Linked DNA regions of Homo sapiens. The protein of the gene in region 2 binds, or shares a complex with, the protein of the main gene of each other region. Each region holds a gene or a part of one and is shown on either strand. Other genes may lie near its edges. The genes, in order: SMARCC2, ARID1B, SMARCA4 and PHF10.

The links.
Region 1: ARID1B (region 2) and SMARCC2 share a complex: the UniProt entries of both Homo sapiens proteins name them as parts of the neuron-specific chromatin remodeling complex.
Region 3: ARID1B (region 2) and SMARCA4 share a complex: the UniProt entries of both Homo sapiens proteins name them as parts of the neuron-specific chromatin remodeling complex.
Region 4: ARID1B (region 2) and PHF10 share a complex: the UniProt entries of both Homo sapiens proteins name them as parts of the neural progenitors-specific chromatin remodeling complex.

The regions. Positions count from the first base shown.
Region 1 is NC_000012.12:56,161,843-56,165,501, reverse strand, and holds the end of SMARCC2 (SWI/SNF complex subunit SMARCC2), read left to right. Parts: coding exon 1-184; intron 185-770; coding exon 771-1,199; intron 1,200-1,736; coding exon 1,737-1,813; 3' UTR 1,814-3,143; downstream 3,144-3,659. UniProt on the Homo sapiens protein: Involved in transcriptional activation and repression of select genes by chromatin remodeling (alteration of DNA-nucleosome topology).
Region 2 is NC_000006.12:157,200,344-157,207,377, forward strand, and holds part of ARID1B (AT-rich interactive domain-containing protein 1B), read left to right. Parts: intron 1-361; coding exon 362-1,145; intron 1,146-3,522; coding exon 3,523-3,653; intron 3,654-5,823; coding exon 5,824-7,034. UniProt on the Homo sapiens protein: Involved in transcriptional activation and repression of select genes by chromatin remodeling (alteration of DNA-nucleosome topology).
Region 3 is NC_000019.10:10,956,303-10,964,029, forward strand, and holds the start of SMARCA4 (SWI/SNF-related matrix-associated actin-dependent regulator of chromatin subfamily A member 4), read left to right. Parts: upstream 1-4,727; 5' UTR 4,728-4,872; intron 4,873-5,007; exon of another isoform or gene 5,008-5,427; intron 5,428-7,727. UniProt on the Homo sapiens protein: ATPase involved in transcriptional activation and repression of select genes by chromatin remodeling (alteration of DNA-nucleosome topology).
Region 4 is NC_000006.12:169,707,483-169,714,516, reverse strand, and holds part of PHF10 (PHD finger protein 10), read left to right. Parts: intron 1-1,977; coding exon 1,978-2,131; intron 2,132-4,125; coding exon 4,126-4,281; intron 4,282-7,034. UniProt on the Homo sapiens protein: Involved in transcription activity regulation by chromatin remodeling. Belongs to the neural progenitors-specific chromatin remodeling complex (npBAF complex) and is required for the proliferation of neural progenitors.

The DNA.
Region 1 (3,659 bases), on a different chromosome or scaffold from region 2:
TTGGCTGTGGCTCCAGCCTCTGTAGTCCCTGCTCCTGCTGGCAGTGGGGCCCCTCCAGGAAGTTTGGGCCCTTCTGAACAGATTGGGCAGGCAGGGTCAACTGCAGGGCCACAGCAGCAGCAACCAGCTGGAGCCCCCCAGCCTGGGGCAGTCCCACCAGGGGTTCCCCCCCCTGGACCCCATGGTAAGTGTTATGTTCCAGAACTTTTGTTGGCTAGAGGAATCCAGGTGAATGTCCCAGTTCTCCTCAAAGGGGATACAAGATGAGTGTGGAGATGAGGTTAGCCTCAATTTCTACAGATGGGCCCATCTCTCTTAGGCCCCTAAATCAGCAGGAGTCCTTCCCCAAACTCGAGAGCTTTGGAATTTTATTCACTTACTCTAGTGTCAGAAAAGGGGAAGATAGTGCCAAGGAATGGCTAGATTATCCTTGTTTGTAAAAGTGAGTTATTCTTTGGGAGGCCGAAATGGGTGGATCACGAGGTCAGGAGATTGAGACCATCCTGGCCAACATGTTGAAACCCCGTCTCTAGTAAAAATACAAAAATTAGCTGGGCGTGGTGGTGCGTACATGTAGTACCAGCTACTCGGGAGGCTGAGGCAGGAGATTGCTTAAACCCGGGAGGCGGAGGTTGCAGTGAGCCAAGATCGTGCCACTGCACTCCAGCCTGGTGACAGAGTGAGACTCCGTCTAAAAAAAAAATAGAAAAGGTGAGTTGTTAAGCAAAATTTTATACCTAATTTTCTCCATCTCTCATCTTTATTCTCAGGCCCCTCACCGTTCCCCAACCAACAAACTCCTCCCTCAATGATGCCAGGGGCAGTGCCAGGCAGCGGGCACCCAGGCGTGGCGGGTAATGCTCCTTTGGGTTTGCCTTTTGGCATGCCGCCTCCTCCTCCTCCTCCTGCTCCATCCATCATCCCATTTGGTAGTCTAGCTGACTCCATCAGTATTAACCTCCCCGCTCCTCCTAACCTGCATGGGCATCACCACCATCTCCCGTTCGCCCCGGGCACTCTCCCCCCACCTAACCTGCCTGTGTCCATGGCGAACCCTCTACATCCTAACCTGCCGGCGACCACCACCATGCCATCTTCCTTGCCTCTCGGGCCGGGGCTCGGATCCGCCGCAGCCCAAAGCCCTGCCATTGTGGCAGCTGTTCAGGGCAACCTCCTGCCCAGTGCCAGCCCACTGCCAGGTGAGAAGGGGCCAAGAGGGGAGAAGGGTGAGGGAGAGGGGTCCACCTGGAGGGAGGGTGAGCGGGCAGGTGGGGAAGAGGTCAGGTATTAGAGTTTCCACAATCCTTTTTGAACACTCTGGTAAAATTAGAATACAGGAGGAAGGGCCTCTCTGGCCGTCCTCCACCATTCCCCAGCCTGGCAGCTGCCACCTTTGGGATGATGTTGGGGCCTTTCACTGGTGGGTCATGGAGCAATCCTGTGGCAGAGAGCATCTCAGTTGTAAACTTGAAAAGCAGCTGTTTGCATGATGATTGAGTGGCATCCCTTTGCTTATTCCTATCACGTTCAAATGCCCCATATAGAGAGTCTTTCTATATGTTTTTCTGAGTATGAGGTAGAAAAGAGTGTTGGGAACAGAAGTTGAACATTATGGGTACCTCATTCATCCACCCAGCCACTGCATGCCATGCCCGGTTCTGTCTGTCTGTGGTGGTCTGGGTCTGGAGCCATCTCTCCGGCGTACTCTAACTGATTTATCTTCCTTTTCTCCACAGACCCAGGCACCCCCCTGCCTCCAGACCCCACAGCCCCGAGCCCAGGCACGGTCACCCCTGTGCCACCTCCACAGTGAGGAGCCAGCCAGACATCTCTCCCCCTCACCCCCTGTGGACATCACGGTTCCAGGAACAGCCCTTCCCCCACCACTGGGACCCTCCCCAGCCTGGAGAGTTCATCACTACGTAAGGAAAGCTCCTTCCGCCCCTCCAAAGCCCTCACCATGCCTAACAGAGGCATGCATTTTTATATCAGATTATTCAAGGACTTCTGTTTAAAAGATGTTTATAATGTCTGGGAGAGAGGATAGGATGGGAATGCTGCCCTAAAGGAAGGGCTGGTGAAAGGTGTTTATACAAGGTTCTATTAACCACTTCTAAGGGTACACCTCCCTCCAAACTACTGCATTTTCTATGGATTAAAAAAAAAAAAAAAAAGTAGATTTTAAAAAGCCACATTGGAGCTCCCTTCTACCCACTAAAAAATAACCAATTTTTACATTTTTTGAGGGGGAGTGAGTTTTAGGAAAGGGGAATTAAGATTCCAGGGAGAGCTCTGGGGATAGAACAGGGCGCAGATTCCATCTCTCCCCAAGCCCCTTTTTAGTGACTAAGTCAAGGCCCCAACTCCCCTCCCCCACCCTACGCTGAGCTTATTCGAGTTCATTCGTACTAATAATCCCTCCTGCGGCTTCCTCATTGTTGCTGTTTTAGGCCACCCCAGCTCAGCCAATGATTCCTTTCCCTCTGAATGTCAGTTTTGTTTTTAAAAGTCACTTGCTTAGTTGATGTCAGCGTATGTGTATTTGGTGGGGAAAACCTAATTTCGGGGATTTCTGTGGTAGGTAATAGGAGAAGAAAGGGCACTGGGGGCTGTTCTCCTTCCTTCCCTGGGCTGTATCCATGGACTCCTGGAAGGCACAGAGAAGGGAGCTATAAGAGGATGTGAAGTTTTAAAACCTGAAATTGTTTTTTAAAGCACTTAAGCACCTCCATATTATGACTTGGTGGGTCACCCCTTAGCTTCCTCCCTCTCCCACCAAGACTATGAGAACTTCAGCTGATAGCTGGGGGCTCCCCAGATGAGGATGCAGGGATTTGGGAGCAGTGGAAGAGGGTGCCCAACCTTGGGTTGGACCAACCCTTGGCTCGCAGCTCAACTCTGCTTCCCGCATTCCTGCTCCACGTGTCCCAGCTTCTCCCCTGTGACGGGAAGGCAGGTGTGACTCCAGGCTCTGCACTGGTTCTTCTTGGTTCCTCCCACCAGGCCCTTTGTTCCTCATGTCCCCATGTTTCTCTCCCTCTGCGTCTTAGCACCTTTCTTCTGTTCAAAGTTTTCTGTAAATTTTCTCTTTTTTTCTTTCTTTCTTTTTTTTTTTTTTATAAATTAATTTGCTTTCAGTTCCATCTTGTGGGTGCATTCTGTGTTCTTACCTGTGGCTGTCAGGCAGGGGGATTGTGATGGGAGCAGCTTTCCTGGAGTCCTTCACAGCGGCGTTTACCTGGGCCGAAAGACACTCTGCAAGCCACACGGCCTACAGACACTGCGCCTCCCCACAAAACACGAACGGCAGCACAACTGTCGAGACTATGTGCTGGTATAGGAGCAGAGGCTCTCACCTGCCCTAAAAGCTGTTTAAGACTTGGAAGGACATTCCCACAACATGGAATTTTGTATCTCTGTCCCTTCAGAAGTAGTGGTTTCACTCCTTCCCTTATTAGAGAGGAGGCAAGCCCCTTACCTACTTTTGTTATAATTGGCCCTTCACCCTGCTGAGGTGACGGACAGGCTTAGGCAGTGCTAATAATGGCCTGGCTTTAGCTCCAATAAACACTCCACAGGCTTCCCCACAAAAGGCCTTATTGGGAGCTTGGGAGGGCGGGGGCCAGATTTAAGGAGCTGGAAGGGTAGGAGAAGACAGC
Region 2 (7,034 bases):
GGTCCTTCTGCCTCCTGCTGTGGTCCTAGTGCAGCTCCCAGCCCGGGAGCCGTCTGCCTGTGTGGGAGTTGAACGCTGGCTGTCCCGGTGGCACAGCCTAAGGAGAGGAGGCTTTTTTTTTTCCACAGGAAGTTTCAAACACGTGAAAACAAACTTTGGATGCTCTCTCCTCAGTGTGTGACATGGTGTATATAATACTGAAATATTGAACATAAATTGTTAGTTCTCTGTTGTTATAGGAGCTTCCCATATTCATTTTGAAATGAACATTCTAGCAGGTAATAACTATTTTGCATAATTTCAGTGTGTGATTATACCTGTAAGAGCACATCAGGATGATTTGTCTTTCTGTGAATTCCAGAATTACAAACGCCATATGGACGGCATGTACGGGCCCCCAGCCAAGCGCCACGAGGGCGACATGTACAACATGCAGTACAGCAGCCAGCAGCAGGAGATGTACAACCAGTATGGAGGCTCCTACTCGGGCCCGGACCGCAGGCCCATCCAGGGCCAGTACCCGTATCCCTACAGCAGGGAGAGGATGCAGGGCCCGGGGCAGATCCAGACACACGGAATCCCGCCTCAGATGATGGGCGGCCCGCTGCAGTCGTCCTCCAGTGAGGGGCCTCAGCAGAATATGTGGGCAGCACGCAATGATATGCCTTATCCCTACCAGAACAGGCAGGGCCCTGGCGGCCCTACACAGGCGCCCCCTTACCCAGGCATGAACCGCACAGACGATATGATGGTACCCGATCAGAGGATAAATCATGAGAGCCAGTGGCCTTCTCACGTCAGCCAGCGTCAGCCTTATATGTCGTCCTCAGCCTCCATGCAGCCCATCACACGCCCACCACAGCCGTCCTACCAGACGCCACCGTCACTGCCAAATCACATCTCCAGGGCGCCCAGCCCAGCGTCCTTCCAGCGCTCCCTGGAGAACCGCATGTCTCCAAGCAAGTCTCCTTTTCTGCCGTCTATGAAGATGCAGAAGGTCATGCCCACGGTCCCCACATCCCAGGTCACCGGGCCACCACCCCAACCACCCCCAATCAGAAGGGAGATCACCTTTCCTCCTGGCTCAGTAGAAGCATCACAACCAGTCTTGAAACAAAGGCGAAAGATTACCTCCAAAGATATCGGTAAGAATTCCAAAGCTTTCATTCTGAAATGAATTCCAGTTGCAGTGTAGAATTTTAATTTTAGTAAAGATGCTGTTCCTGCTCATCTTAAAGGGATGAAAAAATTATGACTAGAAGTTATCAAGATGCGTTTTTATATAGGAGTAATATAGTTGGAGGCTGCTAATCTGAATTAAGAAATAGTGCCAGAAAGATTGGCCGGGCGCGGTGGCTCATGCCTGTAATACCAGCACTTTGGGAGGCCCAGGCGGGTGGATCACGAGGTCACGAGATCGAGACCATCCTGGATAACACGGTGAAATAAAATGGTAGTTTTACGTGTGAATGTTATTTGTGTGAAAGATTAGAGCTTCAAGTAAGAGATCAGGGAATCCTGAGTGGTTATATGCTGTATTTTGGGCTTAAAGATTTGAACTTAACCAAGCCACTTAATCACTACAATACGTGCCTAACAGACCCCCCCATGAGGCTAATGAAATGCTAAAGGTGACCTGAGAAAATCTGAAGGCAAGCCACTCTGTAATTTGGTGACAACATACAGTGAATTTCCGTGGGAAAAAGTTAAAGCTTGTATGTAATATGTAGATTGATAGATGGTATGACATAAAGAATATGCTATGCTGTGATACATAGAACTGATATCATCCAATGCACTGGTAGACTTGGGCCAAGAACCATGTCAATCGAATGCTGATGTTGCTTGTTTATCCTCTGTGGGATGTTCTGAATACTAATCAGAGGTCTGGACTATCTGGAAGTACACACAGGGTTTCTGCATTATTTTTGAAGTACTTTTAACACAGGAAGGAAGATAATAGATCTGAGTTATATTAGGAAAAATTACTCAAAAAATATCAAGAACAAATTGACTTAAAATCTTTTTCAGTGATTAGAAAATTAAAGATATTAATAATTTGAAAGACATCAATCACTGGACATTAAGGAGATGTAGATTGAGAGACCAGGGCAGGAGAATCACTTGAACTCAGGAATTCGAGACCACCCTTGGACAACCTAGCAAAACCTCGTCTCTACTAAAAAGAAAAAAAATTAGCCAAAAGTGAGATTCATTTCTGTAGTCCCAGCTATTCAGGAGGCTGAGGTAGGAGGATCACTTGAGCCCAGGAGATCAAGGCTTCAGCAGTGACTGTGCCACTGTATACACACACACACACACACATATTCCTTTATATATATCTATCCATTTATATATAATGCATGTGTATCTATATCCCTTTATATATATATATAGATAGATATAAATATAGATATATAGATATATATAGAATATGTGTGTGTGTGTATTTATATGGGGTTGCAGAGGGAGAGAAGGAGACACAGACACTGAGCACCATTTTATATATAGAAATATATACACACACACACACGTGTATTGTGTGTTTATGTGTGTATATGTATGTTTAAATAAATACATCTAAATTTTCTAAAAATCTCCCAGTGCGGGTTATATAGCATTTGTCTTCAACCTAGGGAAATTTACATGTTTATTTTTAAAAGTAATTTTGATTTTTTTATTGTAAAAACAGTATGTAGCTATCTTAGAAAATTTTAAAACAGATAAAATAAAAGTGGAAAAGCCACGGTGTCTCCCCCTCATGCAATGATTCTTGGTGCCTGGAGAATGCCCCCAGCCTCCAGGCAGCTCCAGGGATCTGGCCGAGCTGGGTCTCATGGCAAATCTTCCAAACTTTCTACCTGATCATTTTGTTTCCTTCAGTAGCAGGAATAGGGAAAACAACAAATTACTTCCCATTCTGTGGCTCCAGCCATACTCCTGAGAAATCTGAGCCATCAAAGTGCTAATATTTATCACAGCATGTTCTGAGGGCAGGAGCACAGGACTAGAGGAAAGCAGCCTGGGAAGCCAAGGCCGTGTGTCTGAGGAGGCTGTCTTGGAGTTAAATTTTGCTTCCATGTTCTGCATACTTGGCGGCCTTCCAGGACGCCACCTTGAGACACTCGTGAGTGGTGAAGCCAAAAGAAGACAAATACCACTTTTGGGTTTGACTCATTTATTAAAAGCTCTGATACCACATTGCAGACTCTGTAGGGTGGCTGAAAGAAATAACCCGGCCATGAGAAAGGACCATCTGTGCTCAACCACTCCACCTCCAGAAGCACTTTCGGCCCCTGCGTGACCAACAAAGCGAGATCTGAAACCACAAAAGTTTCTCGTTACAGCTATGGCCTCCATTTAAAATCGGAAATGATCACGCTTAACTGTCCTTGAGAGCATTTGTTTAAAGTCAATATTTAACTTAACACTCCACTTATTTTTTCTTACTCTTTCGTTAACTTTCGTTCTTTCATGCATAGAGTCAACATTCATGATATCCTTGTTCTTCCCCATCTTCAGTTACTCCTGAGGCGTGGCGTGTGATGATGTCCCTTAAATCAGGTCTTTTGGCTGAGAGTACGTGGGCTTTGGACACTATTAATATTCTTCTGTATGATGACAGCACTGTTGCTACTTTCAATCTCTCCCAGGTAAGCCAGCATAGTCCAACTAACAACCAAATTAGGATAGGAGAGCATCAGGCCATGCACATTTGTGCTTGAACTAATGCCTGAGTTGATGAGCACTGACCGTCCAACACTGTTAATCACTGCAGTTGTTATCAACCAGCCTTAATCAATGTAGAGTTATCTGGGATAATATTCACTGTAGTCTTTAGTGTGTGTACACACACATACCTCTATTTCTTATGAGAGAACAGTGACTGTGTGTGTATGTGTATATGGGATAGATGACAGTAGTAACATTAAATTGTTCAGAATGAATATTAGCTGGCCAATGGGAAGAAATCAAAATGTAACATTAAGTTGTGACTGGAGTCAGCATTGGAAACACAGTTGGTTGCAATGGGACATAACCCTGCTTTCCAGGAGGACTTGACATCTTCTTTTCATTAAAAAGATATTCAAGATTTAGAAATTTTATATTCTATACATTTATAGAATGTATAAATATATATAGAAGGAGAGAGAGCAGTTTAATGAACCCCCATGTACCTGTCAGTCAGCTAAAATAGTTATGAACTCATGGCTAAACTTACTTCTTAGTCTATGCTCTCTCATTTCTGCCTCTCTCCAGGTTATTTTGAAGCAGTCATGTAAAAGCCTACTACTTTTAATGAGCTTAAACCCCTCCTTTGTTCAGAGGTAGGCTTCAGGTAGCTTCCAGCATAATAGCTAGAAGAGAGGAGCACTGAAGTTTGGGGAAAATGCCCGAGTCCACTGGGCTATAGACTTTTAAAGAAATATTTAGAAATAAAAAATGGAAAAAGGTCATTTTCCCTATAGTATACAAACAACTCTCTACTTTGAGTGCAAAAACTAAAACACTTAATTTCCTTGCTTCTAAGGAAATAAGACCAGAATCTTCTACTTCTTTCTTCTCTCATTTAAGCCCTCATTATCAGCCTAGAAAGGCAATTTTTCAATTGCTAGAAAGTTTATTAATAAGGTCATAAACATTGTACGAGTTCTGTGTTAACAGAAAATAAGTATTTAAAAACTGTATACTGCATTTGCTAGAGTAATGCGCTTTCATCCTTATGTTAGGTGAACTGTTGTTGATCACATATTTGCATAACCAGAATTGCTTTATTAACTTTCCCTTTTCCCCTGGAAAAAAAAGGGAAAATGCCCTTGGAACATTGTGCCTTCAGCACACTAAAAGCAGTTCTTTCTAGTTGGTGCTGGGGGCTTCCCCTGACTTCTTAAAAATTGTTCCAACTCTACTTTCAAGAAACTGACAGTAGGATATGAAGGTATAGCTGATTTCCAGAACATCTACCGGGAAAGAATCCTTGTTAGAATCCTTGTTACTTACTCTTTAGAGTTCCTAAACATGGTGGGGGGTGTTGGGAGAGAGGGCAGTTGCTAATCGTGAAGTGTATTGGTTTTTTCTTGGTACAGTTGCTTAAAGGAAACCAAACTTGTTCTTGTAGTCAGTGGTTCTCTCATAGTGGTTTTTGCCTTTCAGCTAGAGTCATAAATAACTGAAATGTAAAATTGCATTTTATGAAACATTTTAATTTATTTATCATAGGCTAAATTGATTTGTTTTTAATTTTCAGTGTTCATGAGCTACCACATTGCTGAAATTATCTTCTCCAAAAGATATATAGAGAACATAAATTAGGGTGACCTATGGTACCTGAGACAAAAATAACCATAAAATCCTAAGAATAACAACCATAAAAATCCCGGCAAGCAAGTCTCAGATAAATAATAGAAGAGAACAGAGTCACTTTGGGCAAAAGAGTCTATAAAATCCATGTTCCCACTCTTCTAATAATGAGTACATTGTCTCTAAATCAGGAACAGAAAGGTAAAGAACAGCAAGGCACTCCCTCAGTGATAAGATTAGAGATATGAGAATAAAAAGTAAGTTTTCGTGTAGATAGTCTAAGCAAGGAAGCAGCAAATAAGGAACATGCTAAACATCGGTTTAGTTTATACTGTAAAATTCAGGAAGTTCGCTGGACCTGAAGGGTAGTTTATCTTTCATGGTCCAGCCAAAAAGGGAGACAAACGTGTGACAATGATGGAAAGGTATTGACGGGTCTCAGGATCTTTACCCTCCTCGGTCATATCTGATGTCATGACATTGTACCTGTTCTTTCTTTCTTCTCCTCCTCCTCCTCTCCAGTTGTCTGGATTTCTCGAACTTTTAGTCGAGTACTTTAGAAAATGCCTGATTGACATTTTTGGAATTCTTATGGAATATGAAGTGGGAGACCCCAGCCAAAAAGCACTTGATCACAACGCAGCAAGGAAGGATGACAGCCAGTCCTTGGCAGACGATTCTGGGAAAGAGGAGGAAGATGCTGAATGTATTGATGACGACGAGGAAGACGAGGAGGATGAGGAGGAAGACAGCGAGAAGACAGAAAGCGATGAAAAGAGCAGCATCGCTCTGACTGCCCCGGACGCCGCTGCAGACCCAAAGGAGAAGCCCAAGCAAGCCAGTAAGTTCGACAAGCTGCCAATAAAGATAGTCAAAAAGAACAACCTGTTTGTTGTTGACCGATCTGACAAGTTGGGGCGTGTGCAGGAGTTCAATAGTGGCCTTCTGCACTGGCAGCTCGGCGGGGGTGACACCACCGAGCACATTCAGACTCACTTTGAGAGCAAGATGGAAATTCCTCCTCGCAGGCGCCCACCTCCCCCCTTAAGCTCCGCAGGTAGAAAGAAAGAGCAAGAAGGCAAAGGCGACTCTGAAGAGCAGCAAGAGAAAAGCATCATAGCAACCATCGATGACGTCCTCTCTGCTCGGCCAGGGGCATTGCCTGAAGACGCAAACCCTGGGCCCCAGACCGAAAGCAGTAAGTTTCCCTTTGGTATCCAGCAAGCCAAAAGTCACCGGAACATCAAGCTGCTGGAGGACGAGCCCAGGAGCCGAGACGAGACTCCTCTGTGTACCATCGCGCACTGGCAGGACTCGCTGGCTAAGCGATGCATCTGTGTGTCCAATATTGTCCGTAGCTTGTCATTCGTGCCTGGCAATGATGCCGAAATGTCCAAACATCCAGGCCTGGTGCTGATCCTGGGGAAGCTGATTCTTCTTCACCACGAGCATCCAGAGAGAAAGCGAGCACCGCAGACCTATGAGAAAGAGGAGGATGAGGACAAGGGGGTGGCCTGCAGCAAAGATGAGTGGTGGTGGGACTGCCTCGAGGTCTTGAGGGATAACACGTTGGTCACGTTGGCCAACATTTCCGGGCAGCTAGACTTGTCTGCTTACACGGAAAGCATCTGCTTGCCAATTTTGGATGGCTTGCTGCACTGGATGGTGTGCCCGTCTGCAGAGGCACAAGATCCCTTTCCAACTGTGGGACCCAACTCGGTCCTGTCGCCTCA
Region 3 (7,727 bases), on a different chromosome or scaffold from region 2:
CCATTCTCCTCTGGGATGATTCCCCTCCCCCACTTCCCGTTCCCTCCTCTCCCCTCCCCTCCCCTGCCCTGCCCTCTCCTCCCCTTCTTTTTTTTTTTTTTTTGAGATGGAGTCTCTGTCGCCCAGGCTAGAGTGCAGTGGTGTGATCTTGGCTCACTGCAACCTTCGCCTCCTGGGTTCAAGCGATTCTCCTACCTCAGCCTCCCGAGTAGCTGGGACTACAGGTGCTTGACACCACACCTGGCTAATTTTTGTATTTTAATAGAGACGGGGTCTCTCTTTTTTTTTTTTTTTTAGAGACAGACTCTCGCTCTGTCGCCCAGGCTGGAGTGCAGTGGCGGGATCTCAGCTCACTGCAAGCTGTGCCTCCCGGGTTCACGCCATTCTCCTGCCTCAGCCTCCTGAGTAGCTGGGACTACAGGCGCCTGCCACTACGCCTGGCTAATTTTTTTGTATTTTTAGTAGAGACGGGGTTTCACTGTGTTAGCCAGGATGGTCTCGATCTCCTGACCTCGTGATCTGCCCGCCTCGGCCTCCCAAAGTGCTGGGATTACAGGTGTGAGCCACTGCGCCCAGCTGAGACGGGGTTTCACCATATTGACCAGGTCTCGAACTCCATATTGACCTTGCGATCCCAGAGAAAGTGCTGGGATTACAGGCGTGAGCCACCGTGCCTGGTTGAGACAGGGTTTCACCATATTGACCTGGTCTCGAGCTCCTGACCTTGTGATTTGCCTGCCTCGGCCTCCTAAAGTGCTGGAATTACAGGCGTGAGCCACTGCGCCCAGCCTGTAGATGTTTTTTTTTTAAAGTCTGGAAGCCAAGGGTGTCAATGCAGACATGGGGCCAAGGTCCCAGGGGCAGTTCATTATTAAGAACTGTGCTCTTAATTGAGACACCTGGCAAATTTTGTATTGCTTTGTAGAGATGGGGTTTCACAATGTTACCCAAGCTGGTCTTGAACGCCTGTCCTCAAGTGATCTGCCAGCCTGGGCCTCCCAAAGTACTGCCATTATAGGCATGCATGAGCTACCACAACCGGCCTGTTTTTCTTTTTTGAGACGGAGTTTCGCTCTTGTTGCCCAGGCTGGAGTGCAACGGCATGATCTCAGCTCACCGCAACCTCTGCCCGCTGGGTTCAAGCGATTCTCTTGCCTCAGCCTCCCAAGTAGCTGGGATTACAGGCATGCACCACCACACCCGGCTAATTTTGTATTTTTTTAGTAGAGACAGGGTTTCTCCACGTCGGTCAGGCTAGTCCTGAACTCCTGACCTCAGGTGATCCGCCTGCCTCGGCCTCCCAAGTGCTGGGATTACAGGCGTGAGGCACCGCGCCTGGCCCGGCCTGTTTTTCTTTACACTATTGCATATTAGTGTGATTAGCATAAAAGACAATTAGAGAACAGTCATACCATCCACTCCATGGGCAGCAACCCTGCCTCCTCCATGCATTGCTGCAGGGTATTCCTAGCTCAATGCTTAGCATTTGGAGAGAGCATAAGAAATACTATTTGGCCGGGCGCCTTGGCTCACGCCTGTAATCCCAGCACTTTGGGAGGCTGAGGTGGGAGGATCACCTGAGCCCAGGAGTTTGAAACCAGCCTGGACGACATAGTGTGACTGTCTCTACAAAAAATTTTAAGAAAATTAGCTGAGTGTGGTGTCCCACCCTTGTAGTCCAAGCTACTCGGGAGGCTGAGGCAGGAGGATCGCTTGAGCCCAGGAGGTCGAGGCTACAGTGAGTACTGATCGTGCCACCGCAGTCCAGGCTGGATGACCCAGCAAGCCTGTGTCTCAAAAACAAAAACAAAAAAACAAAAAAATAACTACTTGAATGAATGAGGAATCGAGTTCAGATCCCACTTCTACTTGCTCACTTACTGTGCACTATTCAATAACACTAGCTGAGGATCAGAGAGCTAGCAGGTGGGCTACCTGCTGTCATGATTCCTCATAACCAAACAGTGGAAGTGGGAGCCATTATTGTTTCTGGTGGGTTTTTTTTGTTTTGTCTTGTTTTGTTTTTGAGACGGAATCTCCCTCTGTCACCAGGCTGGAGTATAGTGGCACGCTCGACTCACTGCAACCTCCGCCTCCTGGGTTCATGCAATTCTGCCTCAGCCTCCTGAGTAGCTGGCACTACAGGCACGCGCCACCACAGCCAGCTAATTTTTGTATTTTTAGTAGAGATGGTGTTTCACCACATTGGCCAGGATGGTCTCAATCTCTTGACCTCATGATCCACCTGCCTTGGCCTCCCAAAGTGTTGGGATTACAGACGTGAGCCACTGGGCCCAGCATTTTTTTTTTTTTTTTTTTTTTTTGAGATGGAGTTTTACTCTCGTCACCCAGGCTGGAGCGCAATGACATGATCTTGGCTCACTGTAACCTCCACCTCCTGGGTTCAAGAAATTCTCCTGCCTCAGCCTGCCGAGTAGCTGTGATTACAGGCACCTGCCACTATGCCTGGCTAATTAATTTTTTTGTATTTTTAGTAGAAACGGGGTTTCACCATGTTGGCCAGGCTGGTCTCGAACTCCTTACCTCAGGTCATCTGCCCACCTTGGCTTCCGAAAGTGCTGGGATTACAGATGTCAGCCACCGCACCCAGCCTTATTGTTTGTTTCACAGGTGAAGAAAGTGAGGTGTAGATGCTCTGGTAAACCTGCCTGGTATTACCCATGCATCACCCAGGTAGTAGAAATGGAGTCGTGTTTTAAACCCAGGTCCTTCTGGGGCCTGGCTTGGTGGCTCATGCCTGTAATCCCAGTGCACTGGGAGGCTGAGCCAGGAGGACTGCTTGAGCCCAGTAGTTTGAGACCAGCTTGGGTAACACAGCAGACCTCAGCTCTACAGAACATAACAGACAAAAAAAAAAAAAAAAAAAAAAAGCTGGTGGTGGTGGCATGTACCTGTAGTCACAGCTATTTGGGAGGCTGAGGTGGATCCCTTGAGTCCAGGAGTTTGAGGCTGCACTGAGCTGTGGTTACACCATTGCACTCCAGCCTGGGTTACAGAGCAAGACCCTGTCTCTAATAAAACAAACAATTAAACAAAAACCCACCCAGGTGAGGTGGCTCACGCCTGTAATCCCAACACTTTGGGAGGCTGAGGTGGGCGGATCACTTGAGGTCAGGAGTTAAAAACCAGCCTGGCCAACATGGTGAAACTCTGTCTCAACTAAAAATACAAAAATTAGCCGGGCGTGGTGGCGGACGCCTGTAGTCCCAGTTACTCGGGAGGCTGAGGCAGGAGAATCGCTTGAATCTGGGAGGCAGAAGTTGCAGTGAGCTGAGATCGTGCCACCTCACTCCAGCCTGGGCAATGGAGTAAGACTCCGTCTCAAAACAAACAAACAAACAAACAAACAAACAAACAAACACACAAAAAAGAAAACACACAGAAGAGGCCAAGAGGCTCAGGGCCTTCACTCTCGGAGGAAGGTTTCTCTCTTTCACCACCAGCCTGTATGCATTCAAACGTGTTCTTTGCAACGACGACTTCCGTGGCTGCCCTATTTAAAATGTCCATGATCCTCCCAGTGTTCACCTCACACTGTACTATTTATTTTTTTTGAGACGGAATTTCACTCTTGTTGCCCAGGCTGGAGTGCAATAGTACGATCTCGGCTCACTACAATCTCCACCTCCTGGGCTCAAGCGATTCTCCTGCCTCAGCCTCCCGAGTAGCTGTGACTACAGGCGTGTGCCACCACGCCCGGCTAATTTTTTGTATTTTTAGTAAAGACGGGGTTTCACCGTGTTAGCCAGGATAGTCTCATCTCCTGACCTCATGATCCACCAGCCTAGGCCTCCCTAAGTGCTGGGATTACAGGCATGAGCTACCGCGCCCGGCTAATTTTTGTATTTTTAATAGAGACGGGTTTCACCATGGTGGTCAGGCTCGTTTCTAACTCCCGACCTCAGGTGATCCGGCCGCCTCGGCCTCCCAAAGTGCTGGATTACAGGCGTGAGCCACCAAGTCCGGCCTCTCATACTGCACTATTTTGCTTATTAATCTTGCTTCTTGTCCTCCTTCCCCACTAGACCGAGGGCTCCACGGCGGCTGGGACACAGTAGCAGATCAATAAATATTTGCTAAGCTAATTAATGGCACTTGGGAAGTTTTGCAGAGAAGGCGGCCACGGTCGGGCCCCGCCTTGCCTCCCCAAATAGGCCTCGCCGCCCCAGGTCAGGGATCAAAGCGGTTCCCAGGCGCGCCCTTGGCCCGCGGGAAACCACTGCCCGGTCTTGGTCCAGGCGGCCCGTCCTACGGTCCAGGGTTCCTATTTCCGAGCCTCAGGGACCTCCTTTCCCCACGGACCCCACGGCCACCGGGATCCCATTCTCCAGTTGCCCCATCGTCACCGCGGCCGCCGCCACCGCCGCCGCAGTGGCGTCCGCTCTGCGCATGCTCCGGGGCGTCAAGACGCGAGGCGTGCAGAAGGCGAAGCGTGCGCAGGCGCGGGGCCATCGCGGCCCGAGTGGGGCGGTGCATCGGACGCGCGTGCTTCCTCCGGGCCACGCCCACCCCCGTCCGCCCAGGGACGGGCGCGCACGCGCGCCGGGAGCGGAAGGGCGGGCTGGCGCGCGCACGAGGCCGGGCAGGCGGCGGAAGCTGGAGAGGCCGCCGCGGTGCTGAGGGGGAGGGGAGCCGGCGAGCGCGCGCGCAGCGGGGGCGCGGGTGGCGCGCGTGTGTGTGAAGGGGGGGCGGTGGCCGAGGCGGGCGGGCGCGCGCGCGAGGCTTCCCCTCGTTTGGCGGCGGCGGCGGCTTCTTTGTTTCGTGAAGAGAAGCGAGACGCCCATTCTGCCCCCGGCCCCGCGCGGAGGGGCGGGGGAGGCGCCGGGAAGTCGACGGCGCCGGCGGCTCCTGGTAAGGAACGCGGGCCGCGGGGGCAGCGCGGCGCGGGGCCGGGGAGGGCGGTTTGAATGGAGCCGGGGCGCCGAGGGGGGAGGGGGCTGCCGGCGCGCCCTGTGCGGGGCCGGGGTACGGCGGCGCCCGAGGGTCAAGAAGCCCAGCCGGCAGCCGCGCGCGTGGGGAAGGCCACAGTGTCGCGAGGCCGTGGCAGCGGCGGCCCCCGCGGAGCGGCGGGGTGGGTGGGGGGCCCGGGCCGCGTGGAGGCCGCGCGATCCTCTCCGCGCGCGCTCTCGCCGGGGTCGCCGGACAAAGCTCGCCCCCCTCGCCCGGCACCCCTACAGTCGCCCTCCCAATTACAGCGGCTGCAACAATAGGCAGGCGTTGGGGCTTTTCTGGCTGCGTGGTAACGGGTCCGACCCGAATGTTGCGTTTTTGGCGAAGCTGCGATCGGGGCTCAGCCAAACCTCCAGATATGTCCGGCGTCGGCCGGACACGGGCATTAGCGGTCCCCTTGGGCTAGCCGACCTCAAATTGTCTTAAAAACGTGTCATTCCAGATTTTCAAGGAAAGGTAAAGGACTCCCCCGATGCCTTGCAGTTAGTGACTTCAAAATGTTTGCCCGAATTGGGGTTGGGGATGGGGTCGGCGGCAAGTAGGGGAGCACGGAGGAAATCCTTTGCTGTGTAAAAGCATTGCTTTTCTTTTGCATCCTTTTTTCTCCTTCCCAATTGGTTTTTCAGATTAAGGCTTTTATTTTCAACGTGGACCTTTTGGGCGAGTGTTTTGTCCCGATCTTGAAGATACCAGTCTTGATTTTTTTTTTTTTTTTTTTTGGTCAGTGACTCCTTGGGGAAAGTAGCAAGGGAATAAGCGGAAAAGCCGCTTCGCAGGAATTTGAAGCAAGTTTTCAGTTTGGATTGATAGGCTGCATTCAAGCTTGATTCCTGGTGCTGTCAGTCACTTAGCACACTGTCACTTTAGGGAAGTGGCTTAACCTCTCTGAACCTCTTAGTTTTCCTCCTTTGTGAAAGCTCCTTTGTGAAAGGGGGTAATCTCCCAAATGGAATTGGTGAAAGCCTGTAAAATGGTTCCTCGCAAGCGGGAAGCACTATTGTAATTGTCTGGTCCAATCTCCCTCATTGTTCAGCAGATAACTTCTTGAGGCCCTACTAAGTGTTGGATGGTCGGGGGTTGGATCCTGGAGCCTCTGCAGTCTTGGAGGGGAGCGGGTGGTAAATGTGGGAACAAACTCTCTTGGCCTATCGTTTATTGCTCTGAACCTGCACTGTGAGAGGGACACAGCGGACAGGCAGGGGATCGGTGGTAGCCAGAGATCACGGGGGCTGCTTGGAAGAGGGGGCCTCAAAATCAGGGAGGGTGTGTAGGATTGTATTTTGTTTTTGAGGCAGAGTCTTGCCTGTCGCCCAGGCTGGAGTTCAGAGTCCCAATCTCCGCTCACTGTAACCTCCGCCTCCTGGGTTCAAGCGATTCTCCTGCCTCAGCCTCCTGAGTAGCTGGGACTACAGGCGCCCGCCACCACGCCTGGCTAATTTTTGTATTTTTAGTAGATATGGGGTTTTACCATGTTGGCCAGGCTGGTCTCAAACTCCTGACTTAAGGTGATCCACCCACCTCGGCCTCCCAAAGTGCTAGGACTACATGTGTGAGCCACTGCGCCAGGATTGTATTTTGACTTTCCCTGGCCACCTCGGACTAGCCATTGTTCCCCTCAGCTACATTCATACATCAACTTGGTCCTTTCCGGTGTAGCTGTCACCCCCAGCACCGTGAGAGCTGGGGTTGTGTCTGCCTGGCTGGCCCCACAGTACCCTGGGCCTGACACATAGTAGGTCTTTAGCGAACTTATGTGGATTGAATGAGGGGGTCCTGTGGAAGATCGCGTGACCATCTGTGTAAAAGGCTTGGTGCAGGGCCAGGTGCAGTGGCTCATACCTGAAATCCCAGCACTTGGGGAGGCTGAGGCGGGAAAATTGCTTGAACCCGGGAGTTTGAGACTAACCTGGGCAACATAGTGAGACCTCATCTCTACAAAAAATACAAAAATTAGCCGAGTGTGGTGGCATGCACCGGTGGTCCCAACTACTCAGGAGGCTGAGGTAGGAGGACTGCTTGAGCCAGAGAGGTGGAGGCTGCAGTGAGCCATTCTTGTGCCCCTGCATTCCAGCCTGTGCACCAGAGTAAGACTGTCTCAAAAAAAAAAAAAAAAAAAAAGAAAAAGAAAGCTTGGTGCAGGACTGGGGGTGGATTGTAAGGGATACAGGTTAGTTGTTTGAACAGTTTTTGCACTTTCCAAGCCATTGTTTCCTGAACCTCAGTTGTCCTCATCTCCCCTACAAAGTGTGGGGTGGTGGTTAGCGTGGGGTGGTGGTAAGGAGTACTCATTCTGGAATCAGACCTCCTGAATTCACACCCAGCTCTCTAAATCGTAGCTTAACCTCAAGCGAGGCGCTTAGCAGTAGGGCCCCCCACTTGTGAAACAGGTAGGACGAGGATGCCCGAAACTTCACAGGCTTCTTGTGAGGGTTGAATGAGGTCACATGGGAAGCCGCTAACACACTGCTGCACCTGATGCGTAGTGAACACTTGATTTTTTTTTTTTTTTTGAGACGGAGTCTCGCTCTGTCATCCGGGCTGGAGTGCAATGCCCCTGTAGTCCCAAGCTCCTTGAGAGGCTGGGGCAGGAGGTACAGGCTGCAGTGGACCATGATTGAGCCACTGCACTCCAGCCTGGGTGACGAAGCGAGACCCTGTCTAAAAAAAGGAATAAAAATTAATTCATGCATAGTTAGGAAAGTAATAAATGGTTTTGCATGGGCCACCTAAAATCATTTTGTGTCCAGCCCTTTAGG
Region 4 (7,034 bases), about 13 Mb from region 2:
CCATTCTGTTTGGGTTTGTTAGAGACAGATGCTGGGGGTTCTGTAGCACCTCACTGCTCAGGGTATGTTCCGTGGTCCAAAGCACTGTTATTGCTCAGAAGCTTGTTGGAAATGCAGAATCTCAGGCCCAACTCTAGACCTATGACTCAGAGTCTGCATTTTAACAGATGTCTGTGTGATTCATGTGCAGGTTAGAGTTTGAGAAACACTGACTTTTACTGCAGAGAAGATGAGAGAAGGAGCGGAGAGGGGCAGGCATGGGCAACTGGGTGCCCCAGCCACATTGCTGACCTGGCCTGGCTGCTGCTCCAATATGGACCCTAAATGTTACTTATCTCCTATTCCCAAATTAAATGTAACTGAAAAAAACAGGGCTAACAGATTCTTTTTTTTTTTTTTGAGACAGTCTTGCTCTGTACCCAGGATGGAGTGTGGTAGTGTGATTTCGGCTCACTGCAACCTCTGCCTCCTGTGTTCAAGTGATTCTCCTGCCTCAGCCTCCCAAATAGCGGGACTGCAGGCACATGCCACCACGCCCAGCTAATTATTTGTATTTTTGGTAGAGGTGGGTTTTACCATGTTGGCCAGGATGCTCTTGATCTCTTGACCTAGTGATCCGCCCACCTTGGCCTCCCAAAGTACTCGGATTAAAGGTGTGAGCCACTGTGCCCAGCCCATTTTGTTTTAAAGTCTCAGCTTTTACTTCAACCTTAAGCCTTACTCTGGAACCGTATGTTTTTCATAATATACTATTTTTTAGAGAATAGAATTTAAAATATAGTATCATAACTCACACCATTTGAAAGTCAAATCTTGGGCAGAAATTTTTTAAATAAAAAAAGATTTTTTAAATTCAAATTTAAATCATGAGCAGCAATTTTTTAAAAGTTTTTCTTCAAATTTTTTTTTTTTTTTTTTGAGATGGAGTCTCACGCTGTCGCCCAGGCTGGAGTGCAGTGGCGCGATCTCGGCTCACTGCAACCTCTGCCTCCTGGTTCAAGTGATTCTCCTGCTTCAGCTTCCCGAGTAGCTGGGATTACAGGTGCCCGCCACCTTGCCCAGCTAATTTTCTGTATATTTAGTAGAGACGGGGTTTCACCATGTTGGCCAGGCTGGTCTCGAACTCCTGACCTCAGGTGATCTGCCCACCTTGGCCTCCCGAAATGCTGGGATTATAGGCGTGAGCCACTGCACCCGGCCTTTAATTTTTAAAAATTTTATTTTGGCATCAGCAAATTATTAAAAGTCATATGCAAGTATATTAACCCCTTTGCTTTTTGGTGTGTTGTCTTAGTTGGAGAAGTCTTCATCTAGGGTTGCCTCCTGAATGGGGGCTACTGAGGGTGAGAATGGAGGTGGCACGAAGCAGTGCTGTCTGACCTAGGGGAAGAGATTGCCAATATAGTTTCAGACAAAATAGATGATTAAATTTGTTAGAATACATGCTTCCCAAATTTGTTTACAATAATTGGTTACTAAAAATTTTGCTTTCTATGTTATTATTTTAAGTAATATCATGTACCATGCACTGGTGTGATATGTATGCATTAAATAAGTTAATGCATATATATCAACTGTATGCGGTAGATGCTATTATTAGGTCTGTTTTACAAATGGAGTGACAGCACAGAGAAGTAGCAAAGACCTGGGACAGTGGTCGAGGTGGATGTGAGCTGGCAGCCAGACTTGGGGCTGCTGACATTTTATTTACTTTTTTCTTTTTTTGGGTTGAGGGCAAAGAGGGGAGGCACATTATCTCTTAGTAAGAATCAAATGCATATTTTACATAAGTCTAGTGAAAAGATGTTCAGGCTTTTTATTAACCCTACTTGATGACAAAAATGAAAAATTAGTACTCTAGTTTTCAAAAGTCTTCGGGGTTACTCAAGAAGTTTAAGGCTATCTTCATAGGTCAAAGATGAGTCTGTTTATATTTAATAATAAAGGGAAACCAAAAATAAACTCTCTGAACTTCAGGTACTCACCAGATGAGCTGCGGTATCTGCCATTAAACACAGCCCTGTATGAGCCCCCTCTGGATCCTGAGCTCCCTGCTCTAGACAGTGATGGTGATTCAGATGATGGCGAAGATGGTCGAGGTGATGAGAAACGGAAAAATAAAGGCACTTCGGTGAGAACATTTCTCTCTAGTAGGAAGCATTTCCTTTCTCTTTGAATTTTTGTTACATTGAATTTCTGTCATCACCCTCTCCTTGAAAAAGGATGGTTGCATGTAATTTCCAGAAAGTATTCATCAATAAAAGTTACTTATAGTATGTTTTGATAAAAACAAGCAGTGAATGGCCTTTGGTAAGCTTTATGCTTAAAATCGCCCCTTTGTAGTTACCATGAGCAGTTTAGGCAAGGGTATGGAAAATTAGCTTACAATCATTTATTCAACTTGCTGTCTCTTTAGCTTAAAATATTGAACAAAACAGAATTTGATCTCTTGACACAGAAATGTAGTTTTCTTAGTTGAGGGGAGTGCATTTGCTTAATCTTATGCTTCCTATAGGAAAATATTATGTTTAGTAATATGTTGTACAATTTGTTGGGTTTTCCTGTATGACTTTTTTTTTTGTAGCAAAATGCACCTGCAAGACAGTGGGCAGTTGGTGTATTCTGTGCACCTGAAGGAGAATAAAATCCCAATGATGGTTTGGGGCTTTGATCCCAGTGATGACATAGGGCTTTGAATTTCTTTAGCATTGTGTTTTAAGTAACTGGCTATTTCAAACTTTTCATTGAAGCCAATGTAAATGTGAGATTGTGCTACCATTGAATGGACATTATTTCCTTGTCACCAACAGCTTCTAAAACATCTTTAATAATACATATTATGCAAAATAAGATACTGTTCAAGTATTAAAGTGGTGACACAACTTTTCTCCTGTCATGTTGCTAAAAGGGGAGCTATGGCATGCAAAGGGTGATGAAGCTGACTTCCTTTCATACTGCTAGGAAAAGTGTAAACTAATCCAACATTATGGGAAAGCATTTTGACAGTCTTACCAATTTAAGTTCCATAGTATTTGACCTAGCAAATCCACTAGTAGAATTTATCCTAAGGATTTAATCAGATGCTGAAAAATTTTAATTAGAAAAAAAGGTCCATTTGAGTGTTGACAGTATTTTTTATGCTGGAAGTTACAAATAAATTTTAATGCCCACAGTGGGTAATATTATATTACATTTATAGGATAGAAATGCAGTTCAAAGAATATTTAATGATTGTGAGAAAATGCACATAATGCTTTTAAAAAATACCAAAATACACATATGCATACACACACAGTGTAATCCAGTTTTGTATTTTAAAAAATGAGGGCACAATGAGGTAGGGGGTAATGTGTGAGTCTCGGTATCTTTATGTATATAAGTGGACACCCAGAAAAAAGATAAAGTAGATACATTCATGTTTCTAGTCAGTGTGTGTTTATCAGGGAGGCTCTAGATAACCTAATTTTTTAATTTATAATTTTTGTAATTTATATGAAAGTTCTAATTAGAACATTTTAAATTATAAAATGAAGAATTAAATGATCAGATACTGAGGTCTTAAACCTTGAATATATAAAATATTTCAGATCCTGTTGTAGATAGTTGAGGGATTGGCTCTGCATAGTTTAACATTGTGAAAACACAAATGTGTACTTGAAGGACTTTTTTTTTTTTTTCCTAACTGCAGCGCTTCATTTTTCCTGAAGGACCTTCTTAATGACTTTTAGTACTCAGTGAAAATACCCACACTTATTTGTAACAATATATTTTTGTATGAAACAAATATGTTCCCTTGTGACGGAAAATGATGTTGAAGCTGTGTGCCGTAATAGTAGCTGAAGCGGATAATTGTGTTTTTGTGACTTATGTCAGAAAACAAAGTTGATGAAGGCACTGATATGGAATCAGTTTTATATAATATACTTAGAAGAAGGAGGAATGATTTTTAACATAACTTACTTTAGTCTCCACTGGAAAAAGCTTTCTTACATTTAGAATGATCTTTTTATTTTTAAAATGATAAAGCTTTAAAACTTTCTTTGAATATTTTCCATAGTTTTCAAAATCCAGACTCAAATTTGTCTTAATTCCAAAGAATCTTTGTTTTTGCCTTTTAAACTCCAGGACAGCTCCTCTGGCAATGTATCTGAAGGGGAAAGCCCTCCTGACAGCCAGGAGGACTCTTTCCAGGGAAGACAGAAATCAAAAGACAAAGCTGCCACTCCAAGAAAAGATGGTCCCAAACGTTCTGTACTGTCCAAGTCAGTTCCTGGGTACAAGGTAGAAGAAAAAAGCCCCTGACTCAGCTTCTTTACTGACCAGCCTCTCCCTGAAATATTTTAACTTGACTTTCACGATTGTGGAGCTTCTGCCTGCTGTACCTCACTAGCTGTTCTTCTATGGTGTGCCCTTTGTCCGCTGCTTTCTTTTTTGCTTTATTTCCTTGGTGGCTTTTCTGTCACTTTTGGCTATGGTTTACCTTCTGTTTTCTGTATATGTACAATTTATAAGTCTTTTTTTTTCTTTGAAAGAATAACCAGGCAAGTATGGGTTTTTAAAACATTATTTCATAGGCAGAAGTTTATATTTTCTTTCCTTGGAGTAAAGATCATAATTATTTGGCATTTTAAATGCCCCAGCATTTAGTGTAGCTAAAGCTGCTGAGCTATAAAGTATGAGTGGATATACTGTTAGACTAAGTTGCATTTTTTTTAGTGCCTTTCATTAAGAAAGATCTGGGTTTAATCTAAGGATTATTTGATCCATATGCTAAATTTAGCTAACTCTGGGATAGAAAATAATAAAACCTGTTACTTACATTGTAGTGATTTTTAGCATAACCTTGGTAAAGAGCCTATATGATTCTATGGCAAGAATTAAAACATACTTGTTAACTTGTTGATCTGATTATCCTCAGAGTAAAGGAGTAGGTTGTCAGCAACTATTATTATATTTTGAACTTTTCCTCCCTCTGTCTGCCCCTCCCTTTTCTTCTGAAGAAAAGGTGAGGTGAGAGATGAGTAGCCTTATTTGCATATAGGGATTTAAGAATATCATAAAAGGAAGAATTAGCTGTACAGTTTCATATTTGGGATGGTGGTAGTAAAATAGACTACCTTTTGATTCTTTTGGTCTGAAATGTATTAGAACATGCTTTTATTGCACTTATGAAGGTGTATTGAAGGAAAATTTTAGAGTAAGCTGATGAGAAAGTTTTGCCAAGTGAAATTGTTAAACACCTTGTATGTCAGAACTGTGATTGTGGTAAATAATTCACAAGAACAGGCTGAAGTAAGTCACCTTTCCCTCAAACTAACTAGAACACGTTCTAACATGTTCATTTACCTTTCTTCAAGTAAAAAAAGCGACATTAAGTTAGTGTATTTCATATTTTATTAGGAAATGCTTTTATGTAATTAACTTAAAAATTCTTTTTTTTTTTTGTAGCCTATAGCAAGCAAATTTTAAGCTTAATTCAGCAAGGGTTGGCTTCCAAGGGTGGCTGCAATAGGCTGCAGCTATGTGATTTTTGTACTTGTTTTTACATATATAGCTTATGTAATTTCTTTATATAAATTAATGCTTAATAACTGAAAGCAAGTGAGCTCCAAAGATGAAATTTCAGAAGCAGTATACATGAATGAGTGTGTTCTACTGGTCTGCTAAGAGCTTTAAATGGAAGTGGCCGCTCAAAGCACAGTGTCCTGTTAACTCTTGAGTGCTAAGTAGATCTTTGCAACAGTAAGCTTGATTGATCATGGGTTAAAAAGAGAGAATATTGAAATAGATGTTTTAATACAGGCTGGAAATCAGCTATTCAACACTATCATTGATTTAGTATACAAGAAATCATATGGATTAACTGAACTTAATAGTACTCAAGTAGGATATGCAAAATTTATATTTTACATAATCTGTGAACATTTTTAGTACCTAAAAATGTTTCAGGTATTTCAAAGATGGGAACAACCAGTATCTAGTCATCATACATTAATGTGAACATGCTTATTAAAAGTTAACCTCTTTATAAAAAGTATTAATAAACCAAGATGTGCCTAAATATTAGGGTACTTCAAGCTAAAGGTCATAGTTTATATATAAAAAGTACGAGATTCAAGGAAGTAATGTATCTGATGCTTTGCTTAATAAGATTCACTAGTGCTTGCCCTTAATTCATAGAACAGTATTGTTTAGGTTACATTAACCTGAAATTTAAAGCATAATTATTAGGATTCCGGCCTATAAATACAATAATTAAAATCTATACTATATTATTGCTACCATGAAAGTCTTATCTTTGGCTGTTTTTCAAGTAGAAAAGTAAGTGTACTGTGAGCCTTTTATTTGAGATGCTGAGAGCTATTAGGATGAGTATTTCAGTTTTCTTGTCAATAGTGATACTCTGATGATGTTGCAGTTATTTGAAGTAGAACTGATTGTCTAAACCAGACACACATAGGAGTGTGCTCCATTGGTCTTGTGGAGAGTGCTGCACATTAACCCCTCCCTCAACTGTGCAATCCACTTGAGACTGGCTTCTCTAAGCCACAGTTGTTATCTGCTGTGTAAAGTCCTGGATGCCAGCACTGTGGCTTCTTAGAGAGGGCAGATGCTTTGTATATCGAGCTGCAGCATTCATCGTAGAAAATGCTACAAAGCTGTCTCTCTTCCCCTTCTCTCATGTTTCCCTCTTTTCATCAAGATGAAGGCTGTTGGGTAAGAAAAACTAAGTGATTTAACAAATCATTATGATTTAAACTTAGAAATAAACCTAGAATTTTTTGGTGTCCCTTTTATCATAGGTGTTTAATGTATATTTTAATGATTGTAGAACTTGAATTGCTCTAGAATGTGAATGACTACCCTTGTGTTTTACTCCTTTTGGCTTTTGTTTTGTAAAGAATCTCCTGTGAGGAGTTCTGTTTTTAGAATTTAATATTGTTTGGTTACTTCCCTGACTTTAGTGAAAGATATTAGAGTATTTACTATGCCAGTATCTAACTTAAACTATTAGTATTAAATAAGTATATCTT